4 separate regions of the Homo sapiens genome follow, and regions 2, 3 and 4 are each reported to be linked to region 1. Evidence: microRNA targets listed by miRTarBase, many of them from high-throughput screens and not tested one by one. Region 1 holds a microRNA gene; each other region holds the end of a gene's coding sequence.

The links. Region 1 holds the annotated microRNA hsa-miR-6879-5p (CAGGGCAGGGAAGGUGGGAGAG, at 1,949-1,970, opposite strand). A microRNA usually pairs through its seed, bases 2 to 8, with sites in the 3' UTR of a target mRNA and lowers its output. Matches are read on the target gene's strand: a 7mer-m8 pairs with bases 2 to 8, a 7mer-A1 pairs with bases 2 to 7 and ends in A, and an 8mer does both.
Region 2: the mRNA of ATP1B3 is a reported target of hsa-miR-6879-5p. Seed matches in the 3' UTR shown: 7mer-m8 at 806-812.
Region 3: the mRNA of SOWAHC is a reported target of hsa-miR-6879-5p. Seed matches in the 3' UTR shown: 7mer-m8 at 1,036-1,042 and 7mer-m8 at 1,051-1,057.
Region 4: the mRNA of AIRIM is a reported target of hsa-miR-6879-5p. Seed matches in the 3' UTR shown: 7mer-m8 at 1,040-1,046.

Annotation. Positions count from the first base shown.
Region 1 is chr11:65,011,981-65,020,479 of GRCh38, reverse strand. It overlaps MIR6879 (microRNA 6879), which reads right to left and starts at 1,975; the gene lies at 1,910-1,975. ARL2 (ARF like GTPase 2) reads right to left here and starts at 6,320. Exons shown (of 5, transcript NM_001667.4): 1 at 6,208-6,320; 2 at 2,006-2,116; 3 at 1,747-1,909; 4 at 1-61. The coding sequence starts at 6,272. ARL2-SNX15 (ARL2-SNX15 readthrough (NMD candidate)) reads right to left here and starts at 6,320. Exons shown (of 11, transcript NR_037650.2): 1 at 6,208-6,320; 2 at 2,006-2,116; 3 at 1,747-1,909. RefSeq lists a silencer at 5,714-6,473.
Region 2 is chr3:141,925,088-141,933,586 of GRCh38, forward strand. It overlaps ATP1B3 (ATPase Na+/K+ transporting subunit beta 3), which reads left to right. Exons shown (of 7, transcript NM_001679.4): 7 at 444-1,462. The coding sequence ends at 614. Among named protein-coding and RNA genes, the nearest start is that of ATP1B3, 53 kb to the left of the region's middle.
Region 3 is chr2:109,615,246-109,623,744 of GRCh38, forward strand. It overlaps SOWAHC (sosondowah ankyrin repeat domain family member C), which reads left to right. Exons shown (of 1, transcript NM_023016.4): 1 at 1-3,745. The coding sequence ends at 822. It also overlaps a transcript of RANBP2 not described here. Among named protein-coding and RNA genes, the nearest start is that of SOWAHC, 5.1 kb to the left of the region's middle.
Region 4 is chr1:37,679,808-37,683,807 of GRCh38, reverse strand. It overlaps AIRIM (AFG2 interacting ribosome maturation factor), which reads left to right. Exons shown (of 5, transcript NM_001350770.2): 4 at 371-489; 5 at 648-2,238. The coding sequence ends at 685. Among named protein-coding and RNA genes, the nearest start is that of AIRIM, 8.7 kb to the left of the region's middle.

The sequences.
Region 1 (8,499 bases):
ACAGTGCTCCAGGCAGGTCCTGCTTATTAGCAAAGATGAGGAGGGTTGCTCCGGCCAGGCGCTGGGGGAGAAAAGATAGAGGGGTGGGGTGGGGACTCAGAGGACAGCCTGACCCCTCCTCTAATGGCCCAGAGCATCTGGGGTGAAGGATCGACCTGGAAGATCAAGGTGAGGCCCCGTGGTGGTGGGAGAGGCCCAGGAGTGAGTTTGTGGACGTAGCCATCAAGGCTGGCCCACATGAATGGAGCAGCCCTGGGCCAGGGTTCTGGTTCCAGCCAACCACCACCCAGGGGACACCGCTGTCCCCATGCTCCAGCTTCCTCTTCCATGAACAGGGAGGGGTGTTGCATAAGATGATCCCTGAGCTCTCCGTGGTTCTAGACTGCTCCAATCTGATGACCAGACATGCACAGAGGATGTGAACTCTCCCTCTTCTGGGTTCACACAGCCCTTTAACCGTTCCACTCCCGACAGGCCTCACTGTCCACCTCTGATTCTAGTTGTTTCCACATATGTGTCTGTGATTGGGAGAGATGTGGGTGGACGGGTCTAACCCTTGGGCCTTGACCTGCCTTGACCAGCATTTGACGGCCCTGATCTCATCTGACCTGCTCCACCCACATAGGAGATGTGTGCGGTGTGCCCAGGACAGTCCCCACTCTGCCTGCAGAATCCCCCCTTTCACTCTCACAAGTGTCCTCATTTTCAACTAAATGCAATTTTGTAGCCTGAATCAAACATTGGAACACAAAAAGTATATTAGTGGAAAAACGTGAAATTCAAATAAAATCTGTAATTAAGATAATAGTAATTCACCAGTGTTGATTTATTAGTTTGGACAGGCCACGGTTAGGTAAGATGGGGAAGCAAGGTAAAGGGTATATGGGGGACCTCTGACCTCTGTACTATCTTTGCAAGTGTCCTTCTTTTTTTTTTTTGAGACGGAGTCTCACTCTGTTGCCCAGGCTGGAGTGCAGTGGCACAATCTCGGCTCACTGCAAGCTCCGCCTCCCAGGTTCACGCCATTTTCCTGCCTCAGCCTCCTGAGTAGCTGGGACTACAGGCGCCCGCCACCATGCCTGGCTAATTTTTTGTATTTTTAGTAGACACGGGGTTTCACCATGTTAGCCAGGACGGTCTCGATCTCCTGACCTCGTGATCCGCCCGCTTCAGCCTCCCAAAGTGCTGGGATTACAGGCGTGAGCCACCGCACCTGGCCCCTTCCTTTTTTTTTTTTTTTGAGACAGGGTCTTGCTCTGTCGCCCAGGAGGCTGGAGTGCAGTGGCACGATCACAGCTCACTGCAGCCTCAACCTCCTGGGCTCAACTGATCCTCCTGTCTGAGCCTCCAGAGTAGCTAGGACTATAGGTGCGTGCCACCACCCCCAGCTGAGGTCACACAGCAAAGAGTCAGACTCTTGAGCCAGGCTCCATGGCCTCTCGAAGCTTCATACTGGCCTTGGGTTATCCTCCCTAAAGCCCAGTGATGTGGGTGTCATCATCACCATTTCAAGGCATAGAAACTGATGCTCAGGGTAGTGACGTAGTAACACCACAGGGACGTTAACTCAATCTCAGTCCACAGCATGTGTCCTGCCTCTGGCACCATGGGCCTCCCATGGTGGGGGCCCAGAGAAGGAAGGGATCCTGCCTCTGGTTTCCCTCTGGGGCCACGGGCCCCTCTGGGCATCTGCTGAGAAGGCAGCCACACGTCCATACATGTACACAAAGGGTAGGAGCTGCCCACCTCCTCCACCAGCAGGCTCTGGAGCTCCCGCTGGCAGTCCTGCATGCGCTGGCGGTCTGCGCTGTCCACTACCCAGATGAGGCCATCGGTGCTCTCAAAGTAGTTCCGCCAGTAGGACCGCAGGGACTTCTGGCCACCCACATCCCAGATGTTCAGCTTGAATCTGGGCAAGGAGCGGGTGACAGGAGGGTCAGCTGGGCCCCTCTCCCACCTTCCCTGCCCTGCTCTGGGCTGGCCCTCCCATGGGGCCCCTGCTCACCCTCGGTGCTCCAGGGTCTTGATGTTGAAGCCCAGCGTTGGGGAGATGGTGTCGATGTCCTCCCCATTGAACTTCTTCAGGATGGTTGTCTTTCCAGCATTGTCCAGGCCACTGGGGCGCAGCAGGTTAAGGAGAAGTCCCTGTTCTCTGCCAGGTGGTGACATTGTTGCAGAGCCCCTTAGGGGACTCATTATTTCCCACCATGTATCAAACTGAGTTGAGCACATGCCTGACCATAATCGGCCCACAATAAATATGAAAGTATCAAATTATAAATATCATCTCTACTGACCAAAGGCTCCTTAATTTGTTGAACACCTACTATGTGCCAGACCCTCTTCTGGGTGCTAGAGGACAAAGCCCTGCCCTTAGGAAGCTTACACTCTAGCGGGAAGACAGTCAATAAAGTACAAACAAATGAGAAAAGAAGGCCCTGCCAGATCCCGGCTAGCGCCATCAACACAACAGAGAGGCTTTCCAAGAGGGCCATCGGAGGAGGCTCTTTCAGCTCAGGTGCCGGGGAAGGCCTCTCTGAGGTGTCTGGAGCTGAGACCCAAAATACAAGGAGCAAGCTTTTTGAAGAACTAAGGTAAGAACAAATATCTGGAGGCAGCCACCCTCATTTGTTTCTGGAATATTCCAGACCTGCTACTGCACAGTGCAAATTAATGGGTGTGCTTACCTGTGGAAGGAACCACCCTCCTCTATCTTCCCAACACTGCAGCTCAGTTGGGCATGGTGGGGTGGGCGGGTCCTGGACTCGACCACCTTTCCCTGCTCATCGGAGCTGGGGCAAATGACCTAGGCCCAGGAGAGGGGTGAGGAGGGCATTTCCCCTGAGGCCCAGCCTTAGCCCCTGGAACCTAGCCGCTGATGACCCCCTGCCCCCAAGCCATCATCCATGTTTCCTTCCCCTCTTGATCATTCCCACTGGCTGATGAGCTTGCCGTTCTTTCTCCCACCTTAAAAAGAGCAAATAGGCCGGGCGCGGTGGCTCACACCTGTAATCCCAGCACTTTGGGAGGCCAAGGTGGGTGGATCATCTGAGGTCAGGAGTTCGAAACCAGCCTGACCAACAAGGTGAAACCCCATCTCTACTAAAACTACAAAAATCAGCCAGGCGTGGTGGCGGGCCCCTATAGTCCCAGCTACTCGGGAGGCTGAGACAGGAGAATTGCTTGAACCCGGCAGGCAGAGGTTGCAATGAGCCGAGATCACACCACTGTACTCCAGCCTGGGCGACTCAGCGAGACCCCGTCTGATTAAAAAAAAAAAAAGAGCAAACAAAGCCCTTGATCTCTCTGCCCCATCTAGTTATTCATTTATATCTTTCCTTTTACAGGAAATCTCAAAATAGTTGTTTGTGCTCACCCCCATTTCTGCCTTCTTGCTCTTTCAAGAACACACTCCCATCAGGCTTTTGCTGCTGCTGTGGCCAAAACTGTCCTTACCAAGGTCAGTCCCCAAAGACCTCCCTGTGGCCCTCTAGTGCTGGGACAGCGCTCAGTCATCTTCTGTTCCCCACTCAGCACCTGATGGAGTGGCTCACCCTCCTCCCCAGCACATGCGCTGCCCTTGGCACTGGGACACACCCTCACCTGGTTCTGCTCCTCACCTGACTTCATCCTGGTACAACCGGGTTCTCTTCTCTGGCCACGCTCATCCCTGGGTGACCTCATCCAGGATCACAGCTTCAAATACCATCTCTATCCTGATAACACCCAAATGTGCACCTCCCACACACTGGACCTCAGTGCCTACATCCAGCTGCCTGCCTGACACTTCTGGGCTGTCTCGGAGGCATCTCACATGGCACACACAGGCACACACAGGGTTCTCATCTCCACCCTGAACCTGCTCCTCCCCCAGTCCTCTCCATCTCAGCAAATGGTTCCTCACCCTTCTAATTGCTCAGGCCAGAAACTTCCATGACCTCACTACTTCCATCCTGGTCCAAGCCACCATCCTATCTCGCCTGCGTCACTGCAGTGGCCTAACTGGTCTGCGATTCCTTCTCTCCACTGCACTTCTCACTGAAAGGGAAAACCAAAAACCAAAAGGCCCTAGGTGAGGGGGTTCCCAGTCAACGCTCCTCCTCCCCACTCCAGCCATACTGCCCTCCTCACCAGTCCTCTGAACACGCCAGTTAGTCCTCCCAGGGCCTCTGACTTGCTGTTCCCTTTGCTTTAAAGTTTCCCCCCCCCCCGAATTGCTATATGGTTCAACCCTCGCCTCCCTCATGTACTCAATTGTCATTTTTTTTTTTTTTAACAGAGTTTCGCTCTTGTCACCCAGGCTGGACTGCAATGGCGTGATCTCAGCTCACTGCAGTCTCCGCCTCCCGGGTTCTGGCAATTCTCTTGCCTCAGCCTCCCAGGTAGCTGGGATTAAAGGTGTCCACCACCACATCCAGCTAATTTTTGTATTTTCAGTAGAGACGGGATTTCACCATGTTGGCCAGACTGGTCTCAAAACTCCTGACATCAGGCGATCCATCCGCCCCGGCCTTTCAAAGTGCTGGGATTACAGGCATGAGCCACTGCGCCCTGCCATCATACAGTGGCCTTCTTTGACCACCCTAAATTGCATTATTCTCCATACCTATATACGTAGTGGGAGTTCATCCTGGAGCAGTATAAGGCCCTGTTCCCCAGAAGCATGGTCCAAAGCATGGCCCATATATATATAGTATGTATGGAGAATATATATATGTATAAATAGAGACAGAGTCTCACTATGTTGCCCAGGCTGGTCTCAAACACCTGGGCTCAAGCGAACCTCCCACCTCAGCCTCCCAAAGTGCTAGGGTTACAGGTGTGTGCCACCGCACCCAGCCTCTATTACATATTTTACTTACTTCCTGTGTTATCATCTTTCTACCCGCGGGCAACCCCCCCGCCACACACACACACACGCATTACAGAATTTCCATGAAGGTAAGATTTTTTAGTTTTATTACCCTGGGCACTAGGACAGTGTCTAGCACATATTAGGCACTCAATATTTATCAAATGAGTGAACTGTATGCTTTTCTTAGAGCTCTTTAAAGCAGACATGCGGCCCGGCGCAGTGGCTCACGCCCATAATCCCAACAGTTTGGGAGGCCAAGGCGGGTGGATCACTTGAGGTCAGGAATTCGAGAACAGCCTGACCAACAAGGTGAAACCCCGTCTCTACTAACAATATTTAAAAAAATAGCCGGGCGTGGTGGCGGGCACCTGTAATCCCAGCTACTTGGGAGGCTGAGGCAGGAGAATTGCTTGAACTCGGGGGGCGGAGGTTGCAGCGAGCTGAGATTGTGCCACTGCACTCCAGCCTGGGCAACAAGAGCGAAACTCCGTCTCAAACAAAACAAAATAAAACAGACATGGGCCGGACTCCGTGGCTCATGCCTATATTCCCAGAGTTTTGGGAGGCTGAGGCAGGAGGATCACTTAAGCCTAGAAGCTGGAGGCTGCGGTGAGCCTTGATTGTGCCACTGCACTCCAGCCAGGGCAACAGAGCAAGACCCTGTCTCAAAAAACAAAACAGTCATGATGTGATTATTAAGTTATATGTGCACGTAAGCGTCTTATCTCCCCAGCCATTCCCCCGCGGAGCCTGGCACAGAGCTGGGGGAACAGGTGCGGGCGCCTAACTGGACTCAGAAGGCGCACAGGGCGCACGGGACACTCGGGCCCACACACACACATCCTCAGCCGCAGGGACAACCACGGGCCGCGTAACACCAAAGAGACGGACTGTTGGATCCACGCTCGAAAGGATCCGCGGAGCCCACACGCGCCACCCGCCACCCCGCACGCCCCCGGGATTCGGAGCTCGAGGGCGGGGCCGGGGCCTGGAACCCTCGGGCCCGGGGGAGGAGATCAGAGCCGGGAGGGCAGCGGCCCCACGCTTGGGCCAGGCCGCCGGGTGGTGGCGTCCGAGTTATCTCCGGGACCCACCACCCCTGACACTCGGGCCGCCTAGCCCCGCCGCTGCGCCTGCAGGACCGCTTCTGCGGCCCTCGGAGCTGGCCCCTGCCCCAGTCCTGGGGTGCGGCTCCTCCCGGCCCGACGGGGCGATTGATGGGGCCCGCGTGGTGACGCCAGGGGCAGTTGGGACGCGCCGGCCGCCGCGTTCCGCTCCCGACAGGGGGCGCCCGGCACCGCCTGCCCGGCTGGACCCCGCCACCCTCGCGGTTCCGGCGTCCGGTAGGATACAGCATGAGCAGTCGCAGCTCCCGCTCTTTCTGCTTCATCTTCTTCAGAATGGTCAGGAGCCCCATGGTCCCCGGAGCCCCCTCCCGGCCGCCGTTTCTTCCCAGTCCCGGGACCCCGCTCCCGGTTCCTGTTGGCTATCACGCTCGCCGACGGCATAGTCGATTGGCCGGACGCTCGTTTGGTCCCGCCCTTGCCGCACGTGACCGCGAGGTCGCCCGCGCAGCTGCTGCGAGGGTCCCTCTAGCGGCGCGGGGGGTTTCTGTGCTGCCGCCCGCCCTGACGCTGCGCCTCCCGAGGGCTGAGGCTGGGGGAGCAAGGGCGACTCCCCCACCCTTTCCCCTGCCGGACTGGGGCTCTTGGCCGGAGCGGAAACCTTGAAGTTCCTGAGTTGCATCTTGGCTGCGTCTGACCTGAGAGTCAGAACCCAGGGCCCCCAGGTACGGACGAACTCATCCTGGGGCCAGTGTAGGCCCCCGTTCCCAGCAACACAGTCCAAATCCTGCTCATCTGGGCCCTCGGCATCATCCTCTGACAGAGCGGAAAGTTGGGCCTCCCCCTACCCGGCTCCGGTGGCTCTCAGTTCAGGGCGGCGGTGCCCCCTGGAGGCCGTTCGGAAACATGCGGGGCGTCCCTGGGTTCCAATGACGGAATTGCAGTCCCGCCCCAAAGGCTGCCCCCACCCAGAGGCCCAGCGTTTCCCTGTTCAGAAGCACAGTTCCTACTTTTGCAGATGGAAAAACTGAGGCCCAGATGGTGCTTAGCACAGTGGCTGGCATGTAGTAGGTGCTCAATAAATATTTGTTGTTGAATGAATGGCTTTGTCCAAGAGTTTCATTCTTTACTTTAGCGCTCAAGAAGTCCAGAAGAAGTGAGGAAATAGGTCAAGGACCAAGCCCTTTTGTAAACTCAGGAGACAGCCTTATTGCTGCAGGTAAGTGTGGATAGGCAGCACGGAAGAGCCTCTCTCATGCTTGGGAAAGAGCTGTCAGCACCAGCTGAGGACAATAGCTAACTCCTGTGTAACTGTTTGCAACGCACTTCACGTGTTCAGCTTCATCCTCCCTGCAACCCTGAGAGGTTTATATTCTTTTCGTAGCTATGATAATGGAATCCAGAGTGTTTAAGGAGCATGGGTGAGATTCAAACTCAGGTCTAGTAAATGGTAAAGCACAATGTCTTCATGCCTCCATGAAGTTTGCCTAGAGAGAGGTCTGGAAGAAGCTGGAGCTTCCCATCTTGCAGAAAGGGGCTTGTGGTCAGAGGAGGGCTGAACAGATAGGCTGCCTGAGTGGGACCCTTCGGTCAGCACCATTTACCCTCCATCACACACACACAAGGAAGAAAGTGAGCATATCGCCTACCCAGAGGCTTCGAAATGCAGCTAAGATCAAAATGGGAAATGCTGGCCGGGCGCCATGGCTCACGCCTGTAAACCCAGCACTTTGGGAGGCCGAGGCAGGTGGATCACGAGGTCAGGAGTTCAAGACCAGCCTGGCCAACATGGTGAAACCCCGTCTCTACTAAGAATACAAAAAATTAGCTGGGCGTGGTGGCGGCACCTGTAATCCCAGCTATTCGGGAGGCTGAGGCAGAGAATTGCTTGAACCCAGGAGACGGAGGTTGCAGTGAGCCGAGATTGTGCCACTGCACTCCAGACTGGGTGACAGAGTGAGACTCCGTCTCAAAAAAAAAAAAAAAAAAAAAAAAGAAATGTCTAGAGGTAGGAGCCTGCCATCCTGCTTCTAGGAGCCTGCACCACAGACATTCTGGCACTGCACAGGAACAACGAAGTTCACTGTGGCATGGTTTGGAACAGCAAGAAATTGGAAAAAACCTAAGTGCCTCCAGTGAGGGCAGGTTACCTGAGCCGGGGTAGGTGCATGTGAATTCATGAAGCCCTTAAAACAGTGAAGTGGGCCAGGCGCAGTGGCTCATGTCTAATCCCAGCACTTTGGAAGGCAGAGGTGAGTGGATTGCTTGAGCCCAGGAGTTCAAGACCAGCCTGGCCAACTTAGGGAGACTCCCATCTCTATAAAAAATACAAAAATTAGCCAGACATGCTCACTTCAACCCAGGAGGCGAAGGTTGCAGTGAGCTGAAATTGTGCCACTGCACTCCAGCCTGGGCGAAATTGTCTGTCTCAAAAAAAAAAAAAAAAATTAGGTGTAGTGGTGCACATCGGTAGTTCCAGCTACCTAGGAGGCCAAGGTGGGAACCAGGGAGGATAAGGCTGCAGTGAGCCGTGATCATGCCACTGCACTCTAGCTTTCATGACAGAGTTAGACCGTCTCA
Region 2 (8,499 bases), not on the chromosome of region 1:
TTATCAGTAATTACAGGTATGGACTTACAGCTCCAAAAAATTAAAAAGAATGCAGAGAACAGAAAATAATAGAGCTAAATTTTTTTTTTAATTTACAAGCCACGTATGGTGGCTCACACCTGTAATCCCAGCACTTTGGGAGGGTGAGGTGGAAGGGCCATTTGAAGCGAGGAGTTTGAGATTAGCCTGGGCAGGGAGACCCTGTCTCTACAAAAAAATTTAAAAATTAGTGGGCTGTGGCGGCATGTGCCTATAGTCCCAGCTACTTAGGAAACTGAGGTGGGAGGATTGGTTGAGGCTTCAATGAGCCATAATTGCACCACTGCACTGCAGCCTGGGCAACAGTCTCAAAAAGAAAATTTACAGAATAAGCCAATTCCTGGTAGAGAGAAGTATTAAGTTTCCATAGAGTTTGAATTAATATATTTTCCTTTTATTGCCAGGTTGGGTATCTACAGCCATTGGTTGCTGTTCAGGTCAGCTTTGCTCCTAACAACACTGGGAAAGAAGTAACAGTTGAGTGCAAGATTGATGGATCAGCCAACCTAAAAAGTCAGGATGATCGTGACAAGTTTTTGGGACGAGTTATGTTCAAAATCACAGCACGTGCATAGTATGAGTAGGATATCTCCACAGAGTAAATGTTGTGTTGTCTGTCTTCATTTTGTAACAGCTGGACCTTCCATTCTAGAATTATGAGACCACCTTGGAGAAAGGTGTGTGGTACATGACATTGGGTTACATCATAACGTGCTTCCAGATCATAGTGTTCAGTGTCCTCTGAAGTAACTGCCTGTTGCCTCTGCTGCCCTTTGAACCAGTGTACAGTCGCCAGATAGGGACCGGTGAACACCTGATTCCAAACATGTAGGATGGGGGTCTTGTCCTCTTTTTATGTGGTTTAATTGCCAAGTGTCTAAAGCTTAATATGCCGTGCTATGTAAATATTTTATGGATATAACAACTGTCATATTTTGATGTCAACAGAGTTTTAGGGATAAAATGGTACCCGGCCAACATCAAGTGACTTTATAGCTGCAAGAAATGTGGTATGTGGAGAAGTTCTGTATGTGAGGAAGGAAAAAAAGAAAATAAAAGTGTGTTTGAAAAATATTATCTTGGGTTCTTTGTAAAATTTATTTTTTACATGCTGAATTAGCCTCGATCTTTTTGATTAAGAGCACAAACTTTTTTTTGTAAAACATGTAAAAAAAAAAACTGGGATTAATTTTTAGTGTTGGAACTGCCTCTTATTTTAGGCTGTAGATAAAATAGCATTTTTAGGTTAGCCAGTGTGACTATGCACCTAATTTTTTATGAGATTAAATTCATAAGACTTAATTTGTACAATAGTTTGTGAAATATCTTGTTACTGCTTTTATTTAGCAGACTGTGGACTGTAATAAAGTATATAAATTGTGAAATATAAAAACTTGGAACTTATTCAAAGCTTCAAAGCAAACAACAGTTTTGTGTAAGCATTCTTTCCCCTCCAGTATTAGGTGTATTCTTGGTAGGATTATTTGTGATAATTTGGGCTACTTGGCTGAGAAAGTTGTGCTTCCCATATGATCTGTGTTGCTTCTTGTTTTTTCTTAAGGCTGTTGTTTATTGTTACTTTTCTCCTTTTTTAAAAAAAAAAAAAGGCAGCCGGGCGCAGTGGCTCACGCCTGTAGTCCCAGCACTTTGGGAGGCCGAGGCGGGCGGATCACAAGGTCAAGAGATCGAGACCATCCTGGCCAACATGGTGGAATCCCGTCTCTACTAAAAATATAAAAATTAGCTGGGCGTAGTGGTGCGTGCCTGTAGTCCCAGTTACTCGGGAGGCTGAGGCAGAAGAATCGCTTGAACCCAAGAGGCGGAGGTTGCAGTGAGTCGAGATCACACCACTGCACTCCAGCCTGGTGACAGAGCGAGACTCTGTCTGCAAAAAAAAAAAAAAACGGCAAAGCAGATATTCTTGAGGTTTTCTTTGTGGTGGTGCAAGCCAGAAGGGGTGGGACCCAACCCAGCTGGCTCAAGAATGGCCGTTTGGAGTAAACGTGAGGGCTCTGGGTGGCCTTGCCTGGCCAGATGGGCCTTGGTGGCCTGGCGGCAGCCTCTGCCCTTTAGTAGTGGGCACTCAGCCCCACGTCAGAGCTCTGCTTGTTCCTCTGTCACTAAAATCATAGTGATAAGAGATTTTCACTGAAGGAAATTATTGGAGTAATTACAGCAAACCTTTTCTGGGTTTTGATTTTCTTCTTTATGCTATCTCTTAAGAGTGTAAAACAAGGATAAAAGAATGCTACGATGTGAGAGAGGTGACATGACTTTAGTTGGGCCAGTGTGACCTCATCCTCAACAGCTGTAAACTTTGGTGCCTGTGAAATTCATATTAAGTATTCTATTAAATTGTATTTTTGAGTCTTTTGAAGTAAATATGGATGGAATTTCTGTTTTAACGAGCTTAGATAAAAGACTCATTCTCAATACACAAGAAGAATTGAGATGGCATCCAACATAGGGTGGGTGTTGGAGACAAATAAAAATGGCACACACATGTAAGTCACTAAAGCATCTTGTATGCCTCCCTGGTTCAGAAGTTTGGACGTGGATCAGCACCTGACTGCCCAGTGATCTTAGCTGATCTCCCCAACTTCTCCTGGCTCTGCTTGCTTCATCTATCGAAATTAAGGCAGTTTAACAACAATTTAGCAGACCTGCTATATACCGGACTGGATCAGCCAGACTTTGAGGATACAGAGATGAAAAGACATGGTTTCTCAAAGATCTTAAACTAGGAGGGAACAGGCTCTGAGACACAGCACGTGGCATGATGATGGTGATGGCGCTGACATGCAAGAGGCCATGAGGTGGGGTAAGACTAGATTATTCCAAAGGTCCCACCCTTCCCTAAAGTTTATTTTTGTGAAAGATCTCAAGAGATAGGTGGTGCTTGATGGAGGAGGAAGAGTGGCTGGGAGTTGGGCCTGTATGGGCCAGGTAAGGACTGGACTCGGAACGAAGGATGCCTGGACACAGCTGGAGTCCGCCTTTCTGCTGCTGACTTCAGGTTTTCCTCAGCATTTCAGGATGTGCTTACAGATCACCTGGGTATCTCATTAAAATGCAGATTCCAGTTCACTAGGAGGGACTCTATAGATGTAGCAACTCCAAGGTAATACCTACCACTGCTCATTCACAGACCACAGTTTGGAAGGGACCAAAGACAACCAGCTTTGCATCCTTGGCCATTGAGCCTAGCACCAATTTGATTTAATAGATGGAGAAGATTGAGCCATCATTTGACTTTAGCTGATATTTGGAAGTGTGTGCACTCCTGCTAGCTGGCCACCTGTCTGGGTAAGAGAACCCTGAGAATACCCAAGGGCTATGCCATTGGCCCTTGGGAGAACTGGAGTGGTGTTGCTTCTGGTCTTGCTGCCCTGCAGGTTACATTCCCAGGTTGAGCTGAGGGAGTGTGGGGTGAAATGAGATGTGTCCCCATGTTTTTCCCCATTAGCGTTTATGTTCCTTTTTTCTGGGTGGCTGAGAACAGCTGGGGGTGGTGTGGAAAGATAGAGTTTCCTGAGGAATGATGCGCGTCCTCAGATGAGAGCTCTCGGGCAGGAGGGAACTGGGATGTCCTGAGCGGCCGTATGGCAGTGTGGACGGTGGGCGATGGCTAGAGGGGACGAAACAGCCAGAGCTGGGGAGGAGGAACCCAGTGGGGTGTGGCTGGCGGAGATGGCCAAAACTTCAGCTGGAGCACTTCAGAGCACCCTTCAGAGGCGATTCATCCCGAACTGGACCTGTTGCTGATGAAGTCAATGTGGTAGGCAGAATTGCAGCCCCCATGACCTTCACGTTCTGGGGCCATGCCCATGGTTATGCTCTATCACGTGGCAAGAGGGGCTTTGCAGATGAAATTAAGGTAACTGGTGGGTTGACCTTAAAATGGGGAGATTATCCTGGATTATCCGACGGCCCAGTGTGATCATAGGAGCTGTAAGCAGAAGTGAGACCTGAAGCCTCTGGGTTTGGACACATGCTTGCTGTTTTCAATGTGGCTGTGTGGGAAGCCAAAGGAAGTGCATTCTGCCAATGGCCAGTGAGCTTGGAAGCCAGATCTTCCCCAGAGCCTTAAGAGCCCAGCCCTGAGGCCCTGCATAGAGGACCCAGCTGGGCTACATTGTGCCCACACCGCTGACCTACAGAAATGGGAGGTTATGAATATTGTTTTAAGCCACCAATTTCGTGATAATTTGTTATGGAGGCAGATAGAATGCTGATATGGTCATCTTCTCAGTGATGATTACTACTCCAACCCAGTGCTTCTCAAACTGCTCCATCAAGGGCTCCTGTTTAAAATGCAGATTCTGATTGGGCAGTGTCCAGGGTGGGGCCCAAGATTCTGCTTCCTAACAGGCTTTCAGGTGCTGCTGTTGCTTCAAGGGCTACATCAGAGCACGAGGCCCTTGTGTGTATGATTGTGGTTGGTGTAATGCCTGGAATTCAGAGCCCGCGTAAGGAGGGAGGAAGAGGGATCTGAGAGAAGAAAGGCCTAGGATAGAATTTGTTCAGCTATGAAATAACACAGAGGCTGCGGAGAGGTGCCCTGTGTTGGGCCCCTGGCTTTCAGACACTAAGCTTTGTCAGTGTGGTCTCAGAGCCCGGGTTGGATGGGACATTTTCATTTCCTTTGCTATTTTCTGTGGCCCCGTGGGAGGACAGGGGCCTGCAACCATGAGTCCGGCTTCCTGAGGATGGCATGGTTTGGGCCTATTAATGGGATCCTTGTCAGCAGTCTCTTGCTCCTAACTGCATAGGGTGAGGTTCTGGGACCACTGGCTTGGAGATGAAGGGAACTCACCTCATCTGTGCAAAGTTGCTGTCATGTCATTTAGTGAGATACTTCATTTAAAAAATTAATTTAGGGCTGGGTGTGGTAGGGCACACCTATAGTCCCAGCTACTTGGGAGGCTGAAGCAGGAGGATTGCTTGAACTCCTGGGAGATCACAGTGAGACCCCATGTCTTTAAAGAAATATTGAGGCCGGGTGCAGTGGCTCACACCTATAATCCCAACACTTTGAAAGGCCAAGGCGAGTGGATCACTTGAGGTCAGGAGTTCAAGACCAGCCTGGCCAACATGGCAAAATCTCATCTCTATTGAAAATACAAAAAACAAACAAAAAAACTAGCCTGGCGTGGGGGCGTGCATCTGTGGTCCCAGCTACTCGGGAGGCTGAGGCAGGAGAATTGCTTGAACCCTGGAGGCGGAAGTTGCAGTGAGCCGAGATCACACCACTGCACTCCAGCCTGGACGACAGAATGAGACTGCCTCAAAACAAAAAACAAATATATATATATATATATATTCTACCAAAATTCACTTTAAAATGTGTATTGAGGCTGGGCGCTGTGGCTCATGCCTGTAATCCCAGCACTTTGGGAGGCCAAGGTGGGCGGATCACCTGAGGTCAAGGAGTTCAAGACCAGCCTGACCAACATGATGAAACCCCATCTCTACTAAAAATACAAAAAAGTTATCTGGGCGTGGTGGCAGGCACCTGTAGTCCCAGCTACTTGGGAGGCTGAGACAGGAGAATCACTTGAACCTAGGAGGCGGAGGTTGCAGTGAGTGGAGATCACGCCCTTGCACTCCAGCCTGGGCGACACAGTGAGACTCCTTTTAAAAAAAAAAAATGTGTATTGAGCACCACTGTGTGCTAGGCACTGTGCAAGGAGCCTGGGTTACACTGGGGATCAAAACATAATCCCTGCCTTCATGGAACTTACAGATTAGCAACTACCACGAGGCCCAGGCTGCTTCTGCCTGGTACTGTGGGTGGTGGCTGTCCTCTTGGTTCCTAAGGGATAGAGTCAGTTTGGCATGCTTCAGTCTCCAGCTGGGCCAGGCCGGCCCTCAGCCAGCACTCTGCACTCTCCACACCATGAAGCCTCTTAGAAGACATGCAGGAGCTGTGTTTCCATGACTTTATATCCAGAGCCATCCAGTGGGAGGGCAAGCCCCTTACCTACACACACAGTCTTCAGGGCACTTTACTCTTTAAAAATACCCAAAGGCCCAGGCGCGGTGGCTCATGCCTGTAATCCTAGCACTTTGGGAGGCTGAGGCAGGTGGGTCACAAGGTCAGGAGTTTGAAACCAGCCTGGCCAACATGGTAAAACCCCGTCTCTACTAAAAATACAAAAATAAGCTGGGTCACAAGGTCAGGAGTTTGAAACCAGCCTGGCCAACATGGTAAAACCCCGTCTCTACTAAAAATACAAAAATTAGCTGGGTGTGGTGGCAGGCGCCTGTAATCTCACCTACTTGGGAGGCTGAGGCAGGAGAATCATTTGAACCTGGGGAGGCAGAGATTGCAGTGAGCCAAGATTGCACTACTGCACTCCAGCCTGGGCGACAGGGTGAGACTCCATCTCAAAAAAAATAAATAAAAATGAAAATACCCAGGGCCAGGCGCGGTGGCTCACACCTGTAATCCCAGCACTTTGGGAGGCCCAGGTGGGCAGATCAGGAGGTCAGGAGATCAAGACCATCCTGGCTAACAAGGTGAAACCCCATTTCTACTAAAAATACAAAAAATTAGCCGGGCGTGGTTGCGGGCGCCTGTAGTCCCAGCTACTCGGGAGTCTGAGGCAGGAGAATGGTGTGAACCCGGGAAGTGAGCCGAGATCGCACCACTGTACTCCACCCTGGGCAACAGTGAGACTCCATCTCAAAAGAAAAGAAAATTTAAAAAAAAGAATATTGTGATGTGTATAAGTGTGTTGCGAGAAACAAAGATATGGCCAGGTGGGATGGCTCACACCTATAATCCCAGCACTTTGGGAGGCCGAGACGGGTGGATCACCTGAGGTCAGAAGTTTGAGACCAGCCTGGCCAAAATGGCGAAACCCTGTCTCTATTAAAAATACAAAAATGAGCTGGGCATGGTGGCACATGCCTGTAATCCCAGTTACTCGGAAGGCTGAGACAGGAGAATCACTTGAACCTAGGAAGTGGAGGTTACAGTGAGCCGAGATCGTGCCACTGCACTCCAGCCTGGGCAGGCGTGGTGGCTCATACCTGTAATCCTAACACTTTTGGAGGCCGAGGAGGGAGCATCACTTGAGGCCAAGAGTTTGAGACCAGCCTGGGCAACATAGTGAGCCCACATCTCTACAAGAAATTTTACAAATTAGCTATTAGCTGGGCATGGTGGTGCACACCTGCAGTTCCAGCTACTCAAGAGGCTGAGGCAGGGGGATCCCTTGAGCCCAGGAGGTCAAAGCTGTGGTGAGCTATGATTGTGCCACTGTACTCCAGCCTGGGCAACAGAGGGAGACCCTGTCTCTGAATGAATGAATGAATGAATAAATAAATAAATAAATAAATAAATAAATAAATTTGGGGGAACCCATGTTTTGCGCTGTGTCCAGCCACAGAGCCCTCATTAGCCCAGACACATCCGCTGAGCTCCTACCAGCACCTTCATCAGGAGCCCCAGCCAGCTTGGAGACTTCCTCAGGGCTTGTGACACTTCCCTGGGGAGAAGAGAAACGCATCTTGCTCAAAGATGAGTTAATTCACTCACAGGCTAACAGTCAAAAAGAGTTTTATCCCCAAAGAAGTAGCAATAAAATAAGCCAATCCAAGGGGGGAAAGAAACGGACTCTTGGGGAGAGGGAGGAGTATAGAACCTTAACAGCTCCAGCCCATGGATTCTAGAGACCGAATTCTTCAAATTTCATCCCAAAAGAGGTGCACCGCTGGCCTATGAATACACCTGTGGGTGCAGAGAATAAGAGGGAAATACTCTGTGCACCGTACAGGAGGCCTTTTTTTTTTTTTTTTTCGACGGAGTCTTGCTCTGTCGCCCAGGCTAGGGTACAGCGATCTCAGCTCACTGCAACCTCCACCTCCTGGGTTCAAGCGATTCTCCTGCCTCAGCCTCCCGAGTAACTGGGATTACAGGTGTCCGCCACCGAACCCAGCTAATTTTTGTATTTTTAGTAGATATGGGGTTTCACCATCTTGGCCAGACTGGTCTTGAACTCCTGATCTCGTGATCCACACGCCTCGGCCTCTCAAAAGTGCTAGGATTACGGGGTGAACCGCCGCGCCTGGCCTCCACTTACCTTTTAAACCAGGGCTCTTGGCCGGGTGCAGTGGCTCACGTCTGTGATCCCAGCCACTTTGGGAGGCTGAGGCGGGCGGATCACGAGGTCAGGAGATCGAGACCATCCTGGCTAACACAGTGAAACCCTGTCTCTACTAAAAGTACAAAAAATTAGCCAGGCATGGTGTTGGGCGCCTGTAGTCCCAGCTACTCAGGAGGCTGAGGCAGGAGAATCACTTGAACCCAGGAGGTGGAGGTTGCAGTGAGCTGCAGTTGCTGCGCCACTGCACTCCAGCCAGGGTGACAGAGCAAGATCAGTTTCAACAACAACAACAAAGTAAAAGAAAACACCAGGGCTCTCAAACGCTGCTATTGAACACAAGAATGGG
Region 3 (8,499 bases), not on the chromosome of region 1:
GAGGAGGAGAGCAGCGGCGGAGGCTCCGTGACGCTGGACCCCCTGGAGCACGCGTGGATGCTCTCTGCCTCCGATGGCAAGTGGGACAGCCTGGAGGGCTTGCTCACCTGCGAGCCCGGCCTGCTGGTCAAGCGGGACTTCATTACCGGCTTCACTTGCCTGCACTGGGCCGCCAAGCACGGCAGGCAGGAGCTTCTGGCCATGCTAGTCAACTTCGCCAACAAACACCAGCTGCCGGTGAACATCGACGCCAGGACGAGCGGGGGTTACACCGCCCTGCACTTGGCAGCCATGCACGGCCACGTGGAGGTGGTGAAGCTGCTGGTGGGGGCCTACGACGCCGATGTGGACATCAGGGACTACAGTGGGAAAAAGGCCTCCCAGTACCTGAGTCGGAGCATCGCCGAGGAGATCAAGAACCTGGTGGGAGCCCTGGACGAGGGTGACGGGGAAAGCGCCGCGGGTAGCGGCGGCGGGCGCTGGAGGCTTTCAAAGGTGCTTCCCTCGCATCTCATCACCTACAAACTCTCACACGCCCTAGAAGATGGAGGGGACCATCACCACCATCACCACTCGGCTGAGGGGTGGGTCGGAGGCAAAGCCAAGGATCCAGGGCGCAAAGCCTCGGGCAGCTCTAGTGGACGTATAAAACCCAGACTCAACAAAATCCGATTCAGAACCCAGATCGTCCACACCACACCCTCTTTCAGGGACCCAGAGCAGCCGCTGGAGGGCAGGGGGGAGGAGGGAGTGGGGGAGGAACGACCTGTTAAAGGCCACTCGCCCTTCACATTGAGACCAAAGTCCAATGTATTTGGGTAAAAATTGCTTCTTTTAGAAAATGCAAAGGTTTATTTGTCTTAATAAATTGAATACTAGGTGTTGTAAGGAAGTGAGACCAGAAGGACAAGCTAAATTATGCATTCTTACTTGAGGGATCGGAATGGATGGGGCGGAGTTCTCTTCAGGCTAGCCTTCTGGGAAAAGTGGATGTCTTTTTCAGAGATTCATCATACCTTGACCTGTACCTCTTCTCTGCCCTCCACTTCCCTGCCCTGGAGTCCGTTTCTGGAGACTAGAAATGTATCTAAATTGGGGGAACAGAATGAATGAATTAATGAATGAGAGTTCCTTTGCTTTAACCATTCCTGGATGCCTGCAAAGTAAGGAATAATGCAGTTTTTATGTATCTGATTTTATAAGGGGTTACTCTTTCAAGAGTAACAAAAAAATGCAAACTGTAATGAAACTACATTGTATTTCTAAGTGTGAAAACGACAGGCTGCCCCGTTTTTACTAATTGCATTTGCATTTTAAGGTACTACTGAAGGTCAGATCAAAGTTGAAATGCAAAAATACTAATTAGAGAATAATGTGAATAAAATGGGAATCTTCTTGGTATTTTATGTGTATTGTAAGTAGCAGTTAAATTATTTTTTTAAAAGCAATTTCAGTTTTAATCACTGAACAAAAGAAACAGGCAACATTCACTTCTGTAGTATGGTTTCCACCTATCTCTAACACCACTATTAAGGTACACCAGTGTTAAGGTACATTAATAACTACACAAAATTTTATTTAAAGAGAACACTTAGCAGCCTATGATAGTTTTCAATAAAATGTTGCCTCTCTTTCGGATTCTCACTAACTTTTGTTACTATTCTAAAAGTTTGAATTTGCTGGGGTGTTTATTCTGAGGATTATTTAACCATTGTTCTATTTGGCATAACCCTATTTAATGGTGCTTAGAGCTGAATTACCTACAGAAACTGTTTCTGGTTTAAATAATTAGCACAAATTGGCCTAAGTATTCATGAGCCCATGTTTCTGTGAAGTAATTATTAAACCAACTTAATGATTCTTATGTAAGGTACACTTTTTATTTTAATACATTGGTAGTCTCTATGACTTGTAGCAATGTTTTACAAATGTTTAAAATGCTAAACTTAATTTTCCAAGCTTTTCTTGACAATTAGATACCTATCCTGTAGTTACTGAAAATCTGGGTAGTAAATCTACCCAATTAAAATGGCACTTTATAAAAGGGAATAGAGAAGAGATGGGACTATTTCTATATTTAAATGCTGCTGGCTATTCCTTTGTATATAAATGAAAAATACCATTCATTAAAATTAAGTACTCGTTTAAGTATGGTTCTTAATTACATTTCATTCATTTATATTAGAGTAAATGGCTTCATAACTACTTTAAAATTTAACCCACAAGCATATTAAATCTGTTTGTTATAAGATTGGAAACAATTTTTGAGAGGGACTAATTTAAACAAGTCCTCCTTTAGTCTTTTGGGTCGCGTAGTTGCTGAAACCTAAGTACCTGCAGCCTACAGGATAAGGAAGTTCACAGCCTGCGGGGTGAATGAACCCATGTGTGAACTGCACAGAGCAATTCATAGAAAATGCATAGAAATTTGTAACACTTTGGTCACATCTGTCTCTAGATGGTCATTGAATTTGTTTAAAGATGGATGAAAGGCCAGGCATGGTGGCTCATGCCTGTAATCCCAGCACTTTGGGAGGCCGAGGCAGGTGGATCACTTGAGGCCAGGAGTTTGAAACCAGCCTGGCCAACATGGTGAAAACCTGTCTCTACTAAAAATACAAAAATTAGCCGAGCGTGGTGGTGCGTGCCTGTAGTCCCAGCTACTTAGGAGGCTGAGGCATGAGAATCACTTAAACCTGAGAGGTGGAGGTTGCAGTTGAGCCAAGATCACGACACTGCACTCCAGCCTGGGCAACGGAGACTCTGTCTCAAAAAAAAAAAAAAAAAAGATGAATGAAAATATGAAATATATAAACTAGTATCCATTTATTTGCATTTATTGTGGGATTTCAGATATGAACGGTGTAAATTTGAGAAGCACTTATGCATACATGTGGGTGAAAAACCAATCTAATTTTGTATAAATAAAAACAGGCTCCTGGAAGGTGAAAAGTAGTCATTTGTTCTAAATCTATACATATTACTTGTATCTAGTGCAGAATAAGCTATAACATCCCATTGAGGAATCTTAAATTTCATAGACATGTAAAGCTGAAGTAACTCTAAAGAGCAGATGCTTCAGAACCATCAGAAGGTTCTGGTCAACAGTCAGTATTATCTCTTAAATGTATATGTTGGTCACTAATTGCACAAAATCTATAATTTGCCAGGGCTTTAGAGATTGAGTCAATATGTCATTTACCATGGTTTTCCCACTGAAGGCTTTAACTTTTCTGATAAAATAATATTTTAAATTTTCAAAAACCCATTCCTGAGGAGAACTACTTCTAGCATTCCTTTTCATGATGTGCTTTTGTGCAGTAAGTAGCATTTTCGGCTACTTAACTTTACATTCCTCTTATTTTTCAGTTTCCAGTCAAGATTATAAAAAGCAAATGATTGATATAATTTGATATTCATAGAGTTGTGCCTACCTTTAATGGAAAAATACATGTCAGATACTTAGATGTTTATTGATATGAGACTATGTGGTTAAAAAACCCAAGTATGTCCATGTGTTTCTTATAAGGTACACTTGAAACTAGTGAGTGTTTGTCACATTTCACTTTCATGGTATATAAAATGCAGTTTGCATATATAACTTGAATATCTGGTACTAGTTTTTTCACGCCTGCAATCTTGGAGTCTAGGTTGCCTTGTCTCTCCTATTTTTAAATAAGTGAAATTTGGGAGATTGTAAAATCTGTAAAGTTTGTTTTGTGAAAATAAAATGTTCACAGTAGAATTTTTCTCTGAATTGTCTAAGTTTCTGTCGTCCTTTAGACTTTTTACATATACTGTGTTTTACAGTTCACAAAATGCTTTTTGAAGTTTCAGTTTATTTGACCCTTTTCCTATCCCTTAAGATTATGGGCCATATATTGTTGACTTACAGATAAGAAAATAGAGGTTAATGGTTGTTCAGGGTCACACAGTAAAAAGCTGTTAGTAAGATTATAAGAGTCAGGGCTTTCCCACAACGTTATCTTTTCTGCACATTGAATTGCCACATTTTTAGCAAAACTGCTGTAGTTTGGCACCAGTGATGGAGGAATCAACTTGGAGAGAAGGTAATACCTCCACCACTACCTAAAAAAAAGCTGTATGGGTTTTGCACACACCATCTGCCATAAACCTGCCCTACCCAGGGCTGACTTCAAGACAGGTGTAGGAATACCGTTTTTCATTTTTCAGCCTCTGTGAAGCATTGAGAGTTAATTACCTCATCAAGGCTTCCTGTGATCTGTATTTTTAGCAAAATTCAACTCTGTTGAATGGCAAAGGGATGTGGTACTCCTTTGGTGTAATCGCCCACTATTGCTCTATCCGGGAGATCCCACTGTGATGGCTGCTGGGGTTATTCTTGTTTTATGATAACCCATAAAATATTTTTCAGGATCACTGAAAGACTAGATAAGTAGTTTGTTTTTCTAGAATAACTTCTTTCCTTAGAAGTACATGTCTTAAAAGGATTTATTAACCAGTTCACTTAAAGATATTTTTGAAATTTTCCTAGTAAAAATTATTTTTATTTTGCTAAGTAAATAGCATTATTTGGAGTTTCTTACATGATTAATTCCAGGATTAAATACTTGGAATTTGCTGTAAACCAGTATTCCTTCAATGATCACCCAAGTCTTCATAAATCACTGAATATTAGAGGGTTGGAAGATGACTCTACAGAAACTTGTTTCTCAAGATACAGAAGTCATGTGGTTCACATAACTACCTGCTTTTTCCATGAAGAACACTATACTTTTTTTCTCAATCTTCTCTTTAAATGTCAGTTTCATCTCAGTAAGTAGCTTTCCTATTCTGTTAACTAATAGCCTATTTTTCCACATCGATGCATTGGTAAGGAATGTGTGACAAATGTTCTACCCTTGCACAGTGCCTGGCATGTTGAAGGTACTCAGTAAGGGTCTTTTAATGGAAAACATTAAATATTTTATAATGTTACATAATATGGATAATTCAATTACATGCATTCATGCTATGTGAATAGTTTTTTTATATAACATGGCTCTTAAATACCAGCCTATCAGTTCATCTGCAGCTCAGCCAAAAGAACAGCAAGTTATTCCAATCCTGAAGATAAAATCAGCTTTATTAGAACTGTACTTCGTGAGCGATTTAAGAGATTTTCAAGAGTAAATTTGATTATAAGAAAATTTTGCTGGGCGTGGTGGCTCACGCATGTAATCCCAGCACTTTGGGAGGCCGAGGCAGGAGCATCGCCTGAGGTCAGGAGTTCAAGACCAGCCTGGCCAACATGGTGAAACCCAGTCTCTACAAAAAATACACAAATTAGCTGAGCATGGTGGTGCATGCCTGTAATCCCAGCTACTTGGGAGGCTAAGGCAGGAGAATCACTTGAACCCGGGAGGCGGAGGTTGCAGTGAGCTGAGATTGTGCCACTGCACTCCAGCCTGGGCATCACAGCGACTCTGTCTCAAAAAAAAAATAGAAAGAAAGAAAGTTTCCTTACAAGCTGACTCAAGTCCAAGACCTGTAGGAGAAATTATTCTAATTGGCCTTAAATAGTCTAAGTACTGTCAGGTATACAAATGACTACTTATTCTGTGAAATCCCAAAGAGCAAATGAATAGGGAAATGAAGTTTAGTTTAACATGGAGAACTTTCTAATAATCATTTTAAACATACCATGGACTGCCTTGTGAGATAGAACATTCAGCCTTTGGAAATGTGTCAGAGGTTGCATGAGCACCTGAAAATTTAAAATAGATCATTTTAAAGCACACTTGTGACCAGTTCTGTCTCAAGAAACACTGCTCTAAACCATATTCATTCTGACCAAAGCTTTGGCCAAAAGCAGCCTAACTTAGGATAAAGTTAACCAGTGCTTTGCCAGTGGTATAAAGTAGAATCATATAAGTTGTTGGTTTGTTGTTGTTGTTTTCTTTTTGAGATGGAGTCTTGCTCTGTTGCCAGGCTGGAGTGCAGTGGCGTGATCTTGGCTCACTGCAACCTCTGCCTCTCCGGTTCAAGCGATTTCCCTGCCTCAGCCTCCCGAGTAGCTGGGACTACAGTCGCGCGCCACTACGCCCAGATAATTTTTTGTATTTTAATAGAGACGGGGTTTCACCATGTTGGCCAGGATGGTCTCGATCTCCTGACCTCGTGATCTGCCCACCTCGGCTTCCTAAAAGTGCTGGGATTACATGTGTGAGCCACTTTTTTTTTTAACCCAACTTTATGCTATTCTGATCAAAGAACCTGGGAGCCCTCCATTAGAATAGTCTTCTGGATCTCTAAGAAACTTTGAATATAATAGTTTAGAAACATAATTGAGCATTCTTGAGATTTGTCCAGAAATTTCTGATATTGATGTTGGATCTTTGAATTTGCATTTAAGAGGCAATGATGGCCAGGTGCGGTGGCCTACACCTGTAATCCCAGCACTTTGGGAGGCCAAGGCAGGTGAATCACGAGGTTAGGAGTTCGAGACCAGCCTGGCCAACATAATGAAACCCCATCTCTACTAAAAATACAAAATATTAGCTAGGCATAGTGGTGGGCACATGTAATCCCAGCTGCTTGGGAGGCTGAGGCAGGATAATCTCTTTAACCCGGGAGGCGGAGGTTGCAGTGAGCTGAGATTGCACCACTGTACTCCAGCCTGGTCCACAGAGTGAGACTCCATCTCAAAAATAAATAAATAAATAAATAAATAAATAAAGAGGGAATTATTTGGTTGTAGTCAGTTCAGCACTATTGAGCAAAGAATCACCTTTGGCTTAGCCAGGTTTAGAATCACCTAGGTGCTGACATGGCAGCAAGACTAAGGTTAAGACTAAGACGGCTAAGACTTTCAGGAAGCTTACTATATATACCCGATGAGGTTTCAAGTACTTTATAAAAAGCAAGCTGTTTAACTCTCATAATACCCCTTCCCTGATTCTAGTACCTCACTTCTACTGATGGAGAACTGAAATGCAAAAACCCAAATAGCTGCTACTTGCCCAAGGTCACAAAGCTAGTTCTTAGCAGTTCAGCTTTGTGCTCAGGCAGACTGGCTCTAAGGTTTGTGGGAAGCCCTAGTGGTACAGGAAATACCACTTCTTTGGGAACATAAGAGACAGTCAACTGGCCTGAAGTTTATGGGGCTAGCACCTAATGAAGTACAAATGATACAGGAAATTCATACTATTGCAGAAGAGAGCAAACTAAGAACCAAAAACAAGCATTAATGATTGAGACAGATAATGACTTGAACACTCTGTTGTTACTTCACAGCAGTAGGGTTAGAACTGGATTTTTAGGGGTTTGCATTTTCCAGTGTCACCTAGGATCAAATTAATTTGGGTCAGGAAAGAATATTTCTTCAGCTCAGAATGGTGGAGCTGCTAAAATATTTGAGGTGTAGTTATATTTCTTTGTTTAGGCTCACCTCCCCTCTGTCCAGTCCCCTTTCACTTGTCTAAGCACTTAAGCATTAACGGAAGGGCTTAGCCCACTTCCACATAATCATGAGATTAAACGCCAGCGTAGAAGAAAACCAGCAACACGGCATCTGGTTTTCGTACTATACATTTATAAATTTGCAACCCACTAAAAGAATTTTGATAGTTCATTTTGAGGCCGGGCACAGTGGCTCATGCCTGTAATCCCAGCAATTTGGGAGGCTGAGGCAGGTGGATCACCTGAGGTCAGTAGTTCGAGACCAGCTGGCCAACATGGTGAAACCCTGTGTCTACTAAAACTACACAAATTAGCCAGGTGTGGTGGCACAGGCCTGTAATCCCAGCTACTCGGGAGGCTGAGAAAGAAGAATCACTTGAACCCAGGAGGCAGAGCTTGCACTGAGCTGAGATTGTGCCATTGCACTCCAGCCTGGGCAACAGAGTGAAACTCTGTCTCAAAAAAGAAAACAACAACAACAACAACAAAAAGATAGTTCATTTTGGCACAGGCGGGAGTGTTATGTTTGTTCTATCGGAATCTATTACAAAGGGTGCTATTTTCCCTGCCTGTAAATCCCTAGTGGCCTCTTCCTTGAGCCCATACCCACCCCCGGCCACTTGTCAGTGTCCTCCTCTGTGCCCCTGCATGTCCCTCTCTGGTGCACCACCAGTTTTCTTGCCCACTGTCCAACTGCTCTCCAGAGGGGATATCTCAGCCACACAGCTATCCTGAGCAGGCTTGTACTCGGGGGCTGTTTATGGGTTAACAGAATGAACAGCTCTTCTTGCCAGCTGGCCTCCTGCGGTCCGGACTCTGCCCCACAATTCTTGGATCTCTAAGAGGGTGACCTATCTGGAGCTTCCCCTGACTAAAACCCAGAGTGACCCCGATGGATGGCTTTTGGCAGGCGACTCCAGTTTCTGTGTGGTCAGGTGGAATTTGCCTAAAAGCTATCCCACTCTGATTATTCTTCCCAATGTCTGACCTTGAAATGGCTCATGGCTTAAGGTGTGCACCCAGGTGGGTGCTGTGAGAGAATTCTGTCCAGGAAAGAGAATGCTTTGGTCCGTAATC
Region 4 (4,000 bases), not on the chromosome of region 1:
TTGTTCATGTTTCCTACCAGCTGGGGTGTCCCTGCTTCCTCTGAATTGGATGTATTTATCCTCTGAACCTCCGCTAGCTTTACCTCTCATGTCCCTTTTGTTCTTTCTTTTCAGGATCTGATTTTGTCCTCACCATGCTGAGATCCCAGATTTCAGGGATGGTTTCATTCCTCTTTCCCTGTAGCACAAAGCCATGTTAGTAAACAGTTGCTCAGGAAATATTTGTAGCATAGGTGAATCAGGCCCACCTGGTAAAATGTAAGGATATCTGCACTTTCACTTTTATGGCTCCCTCTGGTTCTCACCAGGGTGTTTTTTTTCACTTCAGCATACTGCATTTTCTTTTGAGCAGTCCTTAACTTCCAGAAAGGTACCTGAAGAGAAAGTATCTTCTTTCGTCTATCCAGTGGGGAGACTTGGCAAACATACAAGCTTTGCCCAAGGCCTGGGACCGAATTTCAAAAGACGAACACCAAGATCTTGTACAAGGTACTGGTTTGTGTTCTTCCTTTGTGTCTCCTCTCCTCCTTTCTCTCCCTGTGGCTCGCCTCTTTGGAAGCATTAGGAAGGTGCCCTTGCTGTGCCTCTGTGTGTTTTATGTTCTCGGGAGAGGTGATAATGCCATTTTTTCTGTCTTCCTATTTCAGATATCCTATTGAATGTTTCCTTCTTCCTGGAAGAGTAAGGAAGCTATGCGTATCTGGAGACCACGGGTACCACAGTTGAAGACTGACATTCTGAACCCTGATGTTTCTAAAGAAACGTCAGTATTTCAGTCTGACATATTTGAAACATCAGTGCCTTGAACCTTAGGACTGGGTCTTGGGGAGGATTAGCGCCTAGATGTCTGATTTTGGAGCTGCAGCATGCCAGGCCGTGGCTGAGAGTATGTGAGCCATGCCTTGCCCTTTTCTGAGGCTCAGGGAAGTGGATGGAGCTAGAGAGACAACAGGAAAGACGGTGCTGAAGAACATAGTGTCTTTCCTCTATTGTGGACCTAAAGAGGTGGGGAAGCAAGGACAAGAGGCAAAGAGCCACACTGCCCTTGGCATCATCCAAAGCATTGTCTGGTTGACACCAGGTCCTGGTTTTGTGTCTTTTGTCAATACCTGAATCCTTGACAAAAGAAAAAGTGGTTTTGATGATTTAAAGAAATAAGGGTGATTTTGACAGAAAATATATTTTAAAAATTTTGACCAATTGCAATAGTTATCCTCAAGCCAATTTCCAGAACCTGCCACCAGGGGGAGGTGGTGCAGCATGAATCATTCTGAATGCTTTGTCTTTGAAGTGTTCCCCTATTGCTGTTACCATCTCAGAGGAAGTAACTGGGCATGGTGAGACTCCTAAAATGACAGGAGTTTTTTTGGCCAAAGCTGGCATCTGACTTGCCACATTCCTCTGAGTCTGGAGTAGCCGCAGGGGTGGGAGAATGCCAGCCCAGAGTCAGTCCATCGGGGTTACATTTCCAAGGTCTGCTGCCTTCATCTATGTAATGGCCGTGTTACTTTCAGATCTTTCAGCTTCCCAGAGTGTTGTGGGAATCTTGGTCATTGAATGTAAAGGGACTTAGTAAAGGGTATAGATATTTTTCAAAAATGAAAATAACTTTTTTTCTTATAAGTGATAAGCTTTTATAAAGATCATAGGAAAACTAGAAAAAATGTAAAATGTAGAAAATTGTAAAACAAACTTCATTAGAGATATTTTGATAGATACCTTTTCAGTGTCTATTTACAAATTTTTTCTTTTAATATAGATAGGGTCTCACTATATTGCCCAGCTCACTCCTGAGCTCAAGGGATCCTCCCACCATAGCCTCCCAAAATATTGGAAATACAGGCATGAGCCACTGCTCCTGACCAATTCACAAATTTTTTTAAAGAACAAACGTGCTATCATCGATACATACTGTTAGGTTGTCTTTTTTTAAAAAACCTAATGTAATTTGTTCATCTTTTTATATCTGTAAATATAGCTCAACACAGTTATATTCTTTTTGTGAATGTATTATATCTACAATTTACCTTTTTTCTTAGATTTTACATGCATTTTCCCAAATCTTTGTGTTTGCCTATCTGTAAAGGTAATACATTCTGATTACAAAAAATGAAAATGTTACATAGAAATGTACCGTTATCCATCTACCAGATAACTATTATTAATAATGTGTATTTATTTTTCCAGGAATTAAAAAACATCTATCATATAAGTATTGCAAATAAAACTTAAAAAGCATTTAAGTGTCAAGTCTTATGTTGGGCTCTGGGGACAGAAATAAAAGAGAGCCCTAGAAAGGCTCACAGTTCCACCAGGGAAAGATTAATGTGCAAATAAGTCACTGATATCTTGTTAAAATTTGGATTCTGATTCTGTAGGTCTGGGATGGGGCCCAGATTCTGCATTTCAAACGAAGTCTCAGCTAATGGTCCAAGGACCAGACTTTGGATTGCAGAGACTTAAGTTGTAATACAATAATAAAAGTGTTATAGTTAAGGTAAAAACAGGTGCTGTGGGAGAATAGAGATGATAACTAATTGCCTGTGGAACTCCTTCTTGATGACAGTGACATTTGAGGTAGGCCTTGAAGGGAATTTTACCTGGGGCTAGGAGAGGGGTGCGGGGCATTCCATGCACAGGGGATAATCTAAACAAAGGCCATGTTTGAGGCAGGATGGAAGCCAACACTTGACGAAAGCTAGCTGTGTGCCAGGCATTGTGCTTGTTGCCTTTACCCTCCACAACTGGCAAATAATAGTTCAGTATCACAAATAACAAGTTCACAGATGGATAGAAGGATGGCAGGAAGTGGGTCAGTAAGGGTGGACTGGAACCAAATTGTGAAGAGGATTATGAGTCCCAGCTCAAGCGTTTGTATTTTGCTCTACAAGTGGGAGATGCTCGCTTATGTGTATGCATGTGTAATAAAGAGGTTTTTAAACCTCCCTCATAGAAGCAAGTAATGGCTAAGTAGAAACAAGCACGTTTATGGTGCTCAGTAATAACTATATAGTATTTAAGTATTGTTTTTATTTTGTTCCCTCTTAGCTTTGTGTCTGTTAAAATGCCATATTTTTCATTGTTCTTTTTAAATTTAAAATAAAATTTATTTTTTTGAGACAGAGTCTCACTCCCACCCAGGCTGGAGTGCAGAGGCACAATCTCAGCTCACTGCAACCTCTGCCTCCCAAGTTCAAGCGATTCTCCTGCCTCAGCCTCCAGAGTAGCTGGGATTACAGGTGCTTACCACCATGCCTGCCTAATTTTTGTATTTTTAATAGAGACAAGGTCTCGCCATGTTGGCCAAGCTGGTCTCCAAATCCTGACCTCAAGTGATCTGCCTGCCTCGGCCTCCCAAAGTGCTGGGATTACAGGCATGAGCCACCACACCAAGCCTGATTTATTTTTTAAGTGATATATCAATATTGTAAAATAGGTATGCAAGAGCATATTTAGGCTGGGCACAATGGCTCTTGCCTGTACGAGCACTTTGGGAGGCCAAGGTGGGAGGATGGCTTGAGGTCAGGAGTTTAGACTAGCCAGACAACCCTGTCTTTATGAAAAAAAGAGCCAGGTGTGGTGGTGTGTGCCTGTAGTCCTAGCTATCTGCGAGGCTGAGGTGGGAGTTTCCCAATTCCCTTCCCTGAAGGCAACCAATATTGAATGTTTCTAGTGTATCTTTCCAAAAATACTATGCCTGTGTGAGTGTGGTGGGTAGGTATCCTCAAAGACAGCCCCCAGTGCTCCCACCTCTGGTATTCTTGCCCTTGTGTACTCCCCTCTCCTTCCAGATGGGCTGGACTGACAGATATACTTCTTTTTTTTTTTTTTTTTGAGACAGAGTCTCGCTCTGTCACCAGGCTGGAGTGCAGTGGCGTGATCTTGGCTCACTGCAATCTCCACCTCCCGGCTTCAAGCGATTCTCCTGCCTCAGCCTCCCGAGTAGCTGGGACTACAGACATGTGCCACCACGCTCAGCTAATTTTTGTATTTTTTAGTT